Homo sapiens: one gene and its partner. The protein of the gene in region 1 purifies or fractionates together with the protein of each later gene. This does not show direct contact. Each region holds a gene or a part of one and is shown on either strand. Other genes may lie near its edges. The genes, in order: ZNF431 and TYRP1.

The links.
Region 2: the proteins of ZNF431 (region 1) and TYRP1 purify together in Homo sapiens (affinity purification with mass spectrometry; 2 studies listed by BioGRID and IntAct, with this or other methods). This does not show direct contact.

Annotation. Positions count from the first base shown.
Region 1 is NC_000019.10:21,193,966-21,196,788, reverse strand, and holds the end of ZNF431 (zinc finger protein 431), read right to left. Parts: 3' UTR 736-2,823; downstream 1-735. UniProt on the Homo sapiens protein: Sequence-specific DNA binding transcriptional repressor. Represses target gene transcription by recruiting HDAC1 and HDAC2 histone deacetylases. Acts as a specific transcriptional repressor for PTCH1 during embryonic development.
Region 2 is NC_000009.12:12,688,478-12,696,386, forward strand, and holds the start of TYRP1 (5,6-dihydroxyindole-2-carboxylic acid oxidase precursor), read left to right. Parts: upstream 1-4,907; 5' UTR 4,908-5,001; intron 5,002-5,434; 5' UTR 5,435-5,519; coding exon 5,520-5,904; intron 5,905-7,037; coding exon 7,038-7,360; intron 7,361-7,909. UniProt on the Homo sapiens protein: Plays a role in melanin biosynthesis. Catalyzes the oxidation of 5,6-dihydroxyindole-2-carboxylic acid (DHICA) into indole-5,6-quinone-2-carboxylic acid in the presence of bound Cu(2+) ions, but not in the presence of Zn(2+).

The DNA of each region.
Region 1 (2,823 bases):
AAAATTTATTCTTTTTTTGATCATTCTCGGTCAGGGTTATTTCTCCCCAGTAGAGACTGTAACCAAGCAGGTGCAATTTCAGCACAATCTTTTTATTATTGTTTTTGAGACATAGTCTTGCTCTGTCACCCAGGCTAAAGTGCAGTGGTGCAATCTTGGCTCACTGCAGCCTCTGTCCTCTGGGTTCCAGTGATTCTCCTGCCTCAGCCTTCTGGGTAGCTGGGATTACAGGCACACACCACCATGCCTGGCTAATTTATTTATTTATTTATTTATTTTAGTAGAGACTGGGTTTCGCCATGTTGGCCAGGCTGATCTGGAACTCCTGACCTCAGGTGATCCACCTGCCTTGGTCTCCCAAAGTGCTGGGATTACAGGCATTAGCCACCGTGCCAGGCCTCAGCACAGTCTTGAAGAAGATAGGCCTTGGCTGGACAGGTAAGCTCTAAGCAATTGTAAATAACTATCTTGTAAAGATGTATAATTTTTATCTTGTATTTATTTGCCATAAATATTTATTAAGTTGTAATTTTCACAACATTCCATTTTTATTCTGATATCTACAACTATATCTACATAACACCAATTCCAGTATTTTAATAAACAGAAGAAATGTATATATAGCCTTGCAAAAAATATAAGCCTGATACATTCATATCTGTATAAGATTTGTAGAATTTCCTAAAGTTCAAGGAAGTACACACACACACACACACACACACACACACCATTAAATTCAAATCAAATAGATTTATATTTTGTCAAATTGAATGCTATATAAAATTTATAACCAGATAACACAAAATATAAATCGAATCATGAATACACTGATGATAATATCTACCACAACTTACGAATATGATTTCCAGTTAAAAAGAGAAAAATAATTGCTTTGCTGGATTTTCAGTGTGTGCTAATCACTATCACCATTACAAAAGATCAATTTAATTACAGATTATCCAAAGATGTATCACACATCTAAATATTAAACTTTACACTGCAATAAAATATTTAAATCTGCAAGAAGACACTAGAACATATGGTCAATAATACCATGAGCTGCCACAGGTTTTTAATAGATAATGCAAATGACAATCAACTATATGCCACCACAAGAGAAAAACTGGTACTGGTGAATCTCATACGTATCAAGGAAGAAAAAAATGCAGAATTCAATATGCAAAAAAGATTGTTTATACCAGGTATATACATCATAATCATGGTTGTCTGATACATTAAGTGTTCTGTATTAGAGTTTGCAAAATATACATAATTCTATTGCTAATGAGGAATTAGCCAAAGCCCAACTATTCAATCGCCCATAAAGAAAAATTTTTTAGAAAATTGTGTATCTTTTAAAAAAGTTGGAAGTGAAACTGTTGACCACTTCGGAGCTTTAGAAGTTCCTTTTAATGGTAGTTAGATGGCAAGAGCTGGCATTTTGGTTACATCAGCCAATTCAAAACTCACAGAGAGAAGTTACCAGGTATCAAATTTTAAGGCAGATTTTATTCATTAAAAGCATCTTAAGAAGCAGCAGAAATTGCAGAAATGAAGCAATTCAGCATTTCTACTAATAATAATTTGTATTAAGCATGTCGTTAGATTCTGTGTTGGCCATTTGACATCTGCGATTCTTAACTGCTCCATAAACCTGCTGAATCACAGGGCCACAGGAGCAATCACTGTTGTTTACACGCTTTTTGTCAGGCAGCTCTCATGAGCCTGCAAATGTTGTTATTCCCAACCACTGACACCAGCATTCATTATTTTACTTTGTATTCAATAGGAAAAAGCCCCACGTTTTTGCTTCCAATCATCACGTTCATAAAGCAATAGTCCCACCTCCCTGATAACTCTGCTTTCTCACCCTTGCATAAGACCGCCTTTGTGAGGCCCCCAGGGCCTGCCTTGCCTCTTGTTTCTGGTGGGAGTGTATTAAACACCTTTTAATGGCATTCACCTTTCTTTTGTAAATTAAAATCCTAGCAAAATTCGAGAAATCATGTTTCTGTGCTTTGTTACCAGAAATAATATGGGGTTGGGCCAGGCATGGTGGGTCGCACCTGTAATCCCAGCACTTTGGGACGCCGGGAGTTTGAGACCAGCCTGGCCAACACAGCAAAACTCGATCTCTACTAAAAACATAAAAATTAGCCAGGTGTGCTGGTGGGCACCTGTAATCCCAGCTACTTGGGAGGCTGAGGTAGGAGACTCACTTGAACCCAGGAGGTGGAGGTTACAGTGAGCCAAGATCGCACCACTGCACTCCAGCCTAGGCCACAGAGCAACACTGTCTCAAAAAAAAAAAAAAAGTAATCGACATTTTGATAAAAAAACAAAAACTTATTTTGTAGGCTGCTCTAGGCAGCATAGACATTTTCTATTCATTCTTCAAATCCATGAGCATAGAAAGCTTTTTTATTTGAATTGTCTCTGATTACTTTCAGTAATGTTTTCTAGTTCTTGTAGAGATATTTTACCTCCCTGGTTTGATGTATTTCTAAGTATATTATTTTTTGTTTATGGCTATTGTAAAGAAAACTGTTCTTGATTTTGTTCTCAGCTTGAATGTTATTGGTGTAAGGCAATGCTATTCATTTTTGTATATCAATTTTGTATCCTGAGACTTTGCTGAAGTCATTTTTAACCTTAGGAGTCTTTTGGTAAAATCCTTAAAGTTTTCTAGGTAGAGAATTATATCATGAGTGAAGGTAATTTCACTTCTTCTTTTCCTATTTGGATGCCATTTATTTTTTCATTTTGTTAGATTTATCCAGCACTTCCAGAACTATGTTAAATAGAATTGTTTAGATAGTCTTA
Region 2 (7,909 bases), on another chromosome or scaffold:
TAAATTTTGGTTCTGATGAAGAGGTAGAAGGGGTCAGGAGGTTTCCATCATTGTCTGTCTTCTGCAAGGTTATCTAAAAAGTGAAGAGACATCCTTAAAGTGAGTATTGACCAAATGTCAGTTGTCTCTTCAGACTTCCTATGGTTTAAAAATAAATGAAAAGAAAAAAGCTCTGTTTTCTTACCTAAATTTGAGTTATATTACCAAAGGCCCCTTAGGTAATGGGGCCTTTATACGTTCCAGAGTAAGTAGCATATGGTGTGTGCATGCATGTTTCTCTCTCTCTCTCTCTCTCTCATTCTGTGTGTGTGTGTGTGTGTGTGTGTGTGTGTGTGTGTGTGTCAGTGGAGAGAGAGAGAGACGAAGAAAAGGGAGGAGTGATAATCCTTCTAAACGTATACAAGTTGCTTGTGAGAAAAATAGCAGTAATCATAACACACCAAGTCCCTTACTGCTGGTAATGCTTTTCATGTGTCTCTCCAGATTGCCTAATTTTAACTTCTTAAATGTCTCATCTCCTCCTCTATACCCTGGAAAATTATAATATGCTGATTCAATTTAAAAAAGTTATTTGAAATGTAGCCAAACTCATTTGATCTTCCTCAATTCATCACTGCATATGGGTTTCATCCCATTTTATTAGTAAATTTGACACTGATTATGATAAATCCATCCAGTGCCACACATCTCCATCTGCAAATTTCAAGGTTTAATTTTAAACTTTTTAGGGTAAGAGGTTTTTAAAATATTTTCAACCTGTAGGATTTCCAAGACCTTATTTCTAAATGTTTCAATATGACCAATCTTATACATGTGATTTTATATTTCTATATCAGATATAAAAAAGATTTAGATTATTTAGGCTTTCAGTTAGTTCTTTTTATACATGAAGCTACTTTTACGAGCAAGATGAAGGGGAAGTGAGATAGTGGCAGTTGCTGTCTTTTGGATGACAGGCCAATTTACTTCTTGCTTCTAAAGGAAGTAGGCTTTACCCTTTAAACCTCCCCCATCATATGTTCTTGCATGTACTGTTTCCTTTCATCAGTAAGTTCTCCTGATCTTCTCTGTCTCTCCCTCTCTCTCTATCTCTCTCTCTGTTTGACTGTTTCTCTGACATTACCCAAAGATAACTGTTTTTTTTTTCTGGTCTCAGAATTATTCGATGTCCTTTAGTAGTGAGGTCAGCTTCCACAAATGCCTAATTAAAAAAAATTTTCCTTAAAATAGGCAAGAGGAGGAGGAGTTGAATTCCAAACACCTGGAGTCTCCTTTGATTAGCAGTATTTAATTTCTGATAGTACCCAATTTATGGCATTTTAGTGAAGACAATTCTAAAAGTTAACAGAGAAGTCAGGCCAATCTTTCCGATAGGATGACACACTCCTTTGTAAATCTTTAAATGCTTTTCATTGCATTATTTGTGAGTAGGGACCAGCAGTGTTCCTAAATAGGAAGTGTGTTTTTTGCCAACAGTAAGTCCCATAGATCTCTGGTTTTCCTGTTTAGTGGAGGGTTACTAAGAGAGAGTACTTAATTTCTCACAGTTGGAAATTTTCCTGGTTTCTCTAGACCATGTAATTCTTCAAAATGTTATAGGGTAGACCAAGTTCTGAATTTTACCTGTGCTTTTGATTAGGCTTCAGTTTGTTTTACAGATTATTGTATTTCTTGTCTCCTTCTGTGCTTTTTCCACAGTGCAGGCAGTAATCACAATATCCTTCATAGAGTGTACTACCTTGCCCTTAAGGATGTTAGAAACGCATGGTATCGATTCCCATTGTGCATTTAGATAATAGCAATACAAGCACAGAATATTATCTTGGCACCATAGAAGCTCTACAATCCCCAAGTGTCAGTAGTACATTTTCTTCAAACGTTAGCAACCTCAATCCCTGGCAAGAAAAAAAACAGATTATGCAATCTATAATGATCTTACTCTTCAGCAAAATTCTATTTTTTTGTGTTCGTTATTAGAAATTTCCACAGACATATTTTAGCAGTCATATTTCTGCCTGCCCAGCTAGAGTAAGCTCAGTGAGGAAGGGGGTCTGTTGCTACTCTTCTTTAATGATGGAAACACTGAGGAGTATATGAGGAATTTTACCCATTAGATGTGTGAGGCTAAGAGATCTTTGATCATGCCACTGCTCTCCAGCCTGGGCGACAGAGTGAGACCCTGTCCCAAAAAAAAAAAAAAATGATATGTCCACTCATTAAAAACTTCTGTCAGACCACTCTTTTTTATAAATTTTTAAATTTTTTAATGATCTAACAAGCTTTATTTTTATCATTGTTAAAAAAATCCTTCTTTTGAGTAACACAATCACAAAGTAAAGAATGTTATCATTGATTTAACCAGTAAAAAAACAATACTTAACAATAAAATTTTTCAAACATGGCTCCAGGCCATCCAGATGACTTAGTTATCCTCCTTTGATGCCCTTCTCTTCTTCGAATGAATCACAATGAGGCAGAAAAATTTTCATGGGTGCAGAGTAGGTGTATATATTTATGGAGTATGTGAGATATTTTGATACAGGCATACAACATGAAATAAGCACATCATGGAGAATGGGGTATTCATACCCTCAAGCATTTATCCTTTGAGTTACAAACAATCCAATAACACTTTTTAAGTTATTTAAAAATATACAGTTATGATTGACTATAGTCACCCTATTGTGCTATCAAACAGTAGGTCTTATTCATTCTTGCTAATTTTTTTGTACCTATTGACTATCCCTACTTCCCTACTCCCCTCAGACACCCACTACCTTTCCCAGCCTCCATTCTTCTACTCTTTATGTCCATAAGTTCAATTGTTTTGAGGTTTAGATTCCACAAATAAGTGAGAATAAGTGATGTTTGTCTTTCTGTGCCTGGCTTATTTCACTTAACAGAATGTCTAGTTCCATCCATGTTGGTGCAAATGACTGGATCTCATTGTTTTACTGCATTTTGCATATGTACCATATTTTCTTAATCCATTCATCTATTGATGAACACTTAGGTTGCTTCCAAATTTTAGCTTTGTAAACAGTGCTGCAATAAACATAGGAGTGCAGATATCTCTTCAATATATTGATTTCCTTTCTTTTGGGTATATATCTAGCAGTGGGATTGCTGGATCATATAGTAGCTCAATTTTTAGTTTTTTGAGGAAACTCCAAACTTTGCTCCATAGTGGTTGTACTAATTTACATTACTACCAACGCTGTATGAGGGTTTCCTTTTCTCCACATCCTTGTCAACATTTCTTATTGCCTGAATTTTGGACATAAGCCATTTTAATTGGGGTAAGAGGGTATCTCACAATAGTTTTGATTTGTACTTCTCTAATGATCAATAATGTTGAGTATCTTTTCATAAGTCTGTTTGCCATTTGTATGTCTTCTTTTGATAAATGTCTGCTCAAATATTTTGCCCATTTTTTTATTGGATTATTAATTTTTTTCTATAGAATTTTTTGAGCTTCTCATATATTCTGGATATTAATCCCTTGTCAAATGGGTAGTTTACAAATATCTTATCCCATTCTGTGGGTTGTCTCTTCACTTCATTGATTGTACTCTTTGCTGTGCAGAAGATTTTTAACTAGATGTGATCCCATTTGTTCATTTTTGCTTTGGCTACCTGTGCTTGTGTGGTATTGCTCAAGAAATCTTTGTCAAGACCAATGTCCTCAAGATTTTCCTCAATGTTTCTTCATTGTAGTTTCATAGTTTGAGGTCTCAGATTTAAATATTTAATCAAATCATTTTTTATTTGATTTTTGTATATGGAACGAGATAGGGACCTAGTTTCATTCTTTTGCATATGGGTATGTAGTTTGCCAGCACCATTTATTAAAAAGACTGTCTTTTCCCCAGTGTATGTTCTTGGTATCTTGGTGAAAAATGTCTTTACTGTAGGTGTGTGATTTTGTTTTTGGGTTCTCCTGTTCCATTGCTCTATGTGTCTGTTTTTAGGCCAGTACCATGCTGTTTTTGCTACTATCACTCCGTAGTATAATTTGAAGTAAAGTAATATGATTCCTCCAGTTTTGTTATTTTTGCTTAGGATAACTTTGCCTCTTCAAGGTTTGGTGTTCCATATAAATTTTAGGATTTTCTTTCTGTTTCTGTGAAGAATGTCTTTGGTATTTTGATAGGAATTGCATTGAATCTGTAGATTGCTTTAGGTAATACGGACTTTTTAACAATCTTGATTCTCCCAATCCATGAACATATAATATTTTTCCATTATTTGGTGTCTTCTTCAATTTCTTTCATCAATGTTTTGTAGTTATCATTATAGAGACCTTTCATTCATTGGTTAATTCCTAGGTATTTAATTTTATGTGTGGCTATTGTAAATGGGATTACTTTTTTATTTCTTTTTCACATTTTTCACTGTTGGTATATGGAAACTTTGCTGATTTTGGTATGCTGATTTTGTATCCTGCAACTTTACTGAATTTGTTTGTCAGCTCTAATAGTTTTTTAGAGGAGTCTTTAGGTTTTATTCAAATATAAGATCTTATCATCAGCAAACAAGGATAATTTGACTTCTTCATTTCCAATTTGGATGCTCTTTATACCTTCTCTTGCCTGGTTGCTCTAGCAAGGTAATATGTTGAATAACAGTTGAATAACAGAATAAAAAAAAATCTCTGCAAAGTAAACAAATCTCACTAGTTTATCTGACTTGTATTCCAAATTAGTGCTTCTGGCCTTTTCTTAAAACTTTAAGCATCACAAGGAAATCAGTTGGAAGGGAATCATGTGCTGATCAAGTCCTTAAAGGGCAGAAATATTCACTGAAGTGAAAAGGATTAGTAAAGGGTGGAAAAAAAGACCAGCCCCCCGCCTAGTTTGGGTGAGCAGATTTGGGATTAATTATCAGGCAGCAATCCACATGCACTTAACAGTTCTGACGTGAGAGGACAAGAAACACAAGCAAATATAAAACATTCAATTCTAAGAGAAGTTCATCAGAGACATCCTTCAGGATTGTGAGGTACTGGAAAGAAGTCCTATGGGGAGTGGGTGGACACGTGCCAAAACTCCATTAGTGTAAGGGACTTTAAATCACAGAAATTAACTTGCTGGAAATCTGTTCCCAATTCTTCCTTCAGCTCCAAGGTTAAATTAAATGTAATTAATGATGGTGACCTGCTAATTCATGCTTTTGATAACTGATATCTAGTATGTATATATATATAAACAAAATGACGAGGACAGGGAATTTAATTATTTGGGTATCACACATGCAGGTGTTATATATGCCAAATTTTAAAGGTAAAATTTGTGTGAAATGTCACACTTTTATTATTTGTGTGAAATGTCATTTTACATATGGGTTCCATTTTGAAAGTGGTTTGGGAAGGGGGCATACCATTTTAAGTACCAAGAAAAACTTGCATAATCTCATTTTACTTTCTCTTTTTCAGCTGGATTTTCCTCTACGTGCTTCAGTCTTCTCTACACAAAGAGCTGCAAACCAGGTCTTTGTTTTGCACTCTTATTTCAAGCAGAATGAGTGCTCCTAAACTCCTCTCTCTGGGCTGTATCTTCTTCCCCTTGCTACTTTTTCAGCAGGCCCGGGCTCAATTCCCAAGACAGTGTGCCACTGTTGAGGCTTTGAGAAGTGGTATGTGTTGCCCAGACCTGTCCCCTGTGTCTGGGCCTGGGACAGACCGCTGTGGCTCATCATCAGGGAGGGGCAGATGTGAGGCAGTGACTGCAGACTCCCGGCCCCACAGCCCTCAGTATCCCCATGATGGCAGAGATGATCGGGAGGTCTGGCCCTTGCGCTTCTTCAATAGGACATGTCACTGCAACGGCAATTTCTCAGGACACAACTGTGGGACGTGCCGTCCTGGCTGGAGAGGAGCTGCCTGTGACCAGAGGGTTCTCATAGGTAAGTGGAGATATGAATGAGTTCATAAGTCCTGCATGAGACTCAAGGCTCTTAATAAAATCTTAAATCATTTGAGCTGGAGGAATACCTGGAAATCATATAGCTCAACCCTCTCTTTTCATAGTTGAGGAAACTGAGGCTTAGAAAGGTTAAGAAACTTGTTTAATGTAAAGGGTTGGAGTTGAAGCTCAGAACTTCTGATCAATATTTTATTCTGAAACATTTATTGAGCAACCACTATATCCTAGGAACTGTGTTAGGTATTATGACTAGTCAATTCAGTAACTCCTTCAGGTAAACATGTTAATTGTCATAGATGAGGTTCAGAAAGTTCAAATCCACACAGGTGATATTTAGTAAACCTGGAATTCATGCTGAGATCTACCTAGCCCTTATATTTTAGTTCTGCAACTACCCCTGCTGACCCTTAAAGAAGTTTCCCACCATGATGATCAAATTCAGCATTTGAGATGAAGAGTTTGGCCTGCAGACTAAATAGCATTAAATAACAAAGCACTAAACAGTAACAGCCAACAATATTTGATTGTGTTCTATGTGCGAGATAGTAGACTAAGGGTTTAAATGAACATGTATTGAGTCCTTACTATGAGTTAGGCCTTGGGCTAATTGCTTTTTATGTGTGTGGTCTTTGAACTTTCAATTCTGTAAAGCAAGTATTATTTTTATCCACATTTTAATGATTAAAAAAAAACTAAGACTTGGAAAAATGTGCCCAAAGTCATAGAATAATTCTCTGGTCTTAACTACTATGTTATATCACCTAATTTTCAAAGATTTATAATGTTAAAAAGACAGAAAATTCCAACAAAAATGCCAACAGTGGGCAGAAATCAACATGACAAGGTCACAGAAACATAAAATCCATAGGTAAGATTAAAGAAAGGTAATATAAATCATGCAGTAAATTGGAGAGAGAAAAGGGAAGAAAGAGAGAGAAAGCAGGCTTGAAGAAAGGGTTTTAGTTAAGGATATTTTTAAAAGTGTAAAATAATTTAAAACACATTTGAACAGATGGATAAATGGGTCGTGGTGTGTTACAAGATGATTATGCTCTTTCTCTACCCATCCCCGCAAGGCAGATGTTTTCATGCTTGAATTTTGTATCCCTAAAGTCAGGAGAAATCTTCTGGACTTAAGTAAAGAAGAAAAGAACCACTTTGTCCGGGCCCTGGATATGGCAAAGCGCACAACTCACCCTTTATTTGTCATTGCCACCAGGAGATCAGAAGAAATACTGGGGCCAGATGGCAACACGCCACAATTTGAGAACATTTCCATTTATAACTACTTTGTTTGGACACACTATTACTCAGTCAAAAAGACTTTCCTTGGGGTAGGACAGGAAAGCTTTGGTGAAGTGGATTTCTCTCATGAGGGACCAGCTTTTCTCACATGGCACAGGTACCACCTCCTGCGTCTGGAGAAAGACATGCAGGTATGTAAGAAGCATTTCAGTTTGCAGACTCTTTACAGACAAGATGCCTTGTTTGTAAGTGATTTTAATTCACTAGTTTTCAGAATCATCAGAACATTTGATGAAAAAGCAATTTTATGTTACTAACCTGTCTTTGGCATTTCGTTTTCTCCTTATTTTGGTTACTTGTTAATTAATCTTTATCTTGGTGAAGTGAAAATAAAGCAAAATCAATAATGAGCAAAATGAGACATTTGCAGGAATGAATTAAAAGTTTAAAAATATTTTGCAGTTTCATTGAAAACATGACTTTCATAAAGCTTGAAACAGAAGAATCTCATTTGCATGTCTTCCTTCTCTACTAAATATAAGCAGATTCCTCCTCCTGGTCAAGTGATGTGGGTTAGAGACTTCTCAATCTTTCCAGTCCTAAATGTATATCTCATCATTCCAGCGATGATTCCCTCCAACATGGTATAGGGTTTAAATCATGAAAAATAATTCCTTTCAATTTAGACTCTCATATTTTCATTGAACTATATTTTTCCACGTTCCCTACCCTTTGAGTCT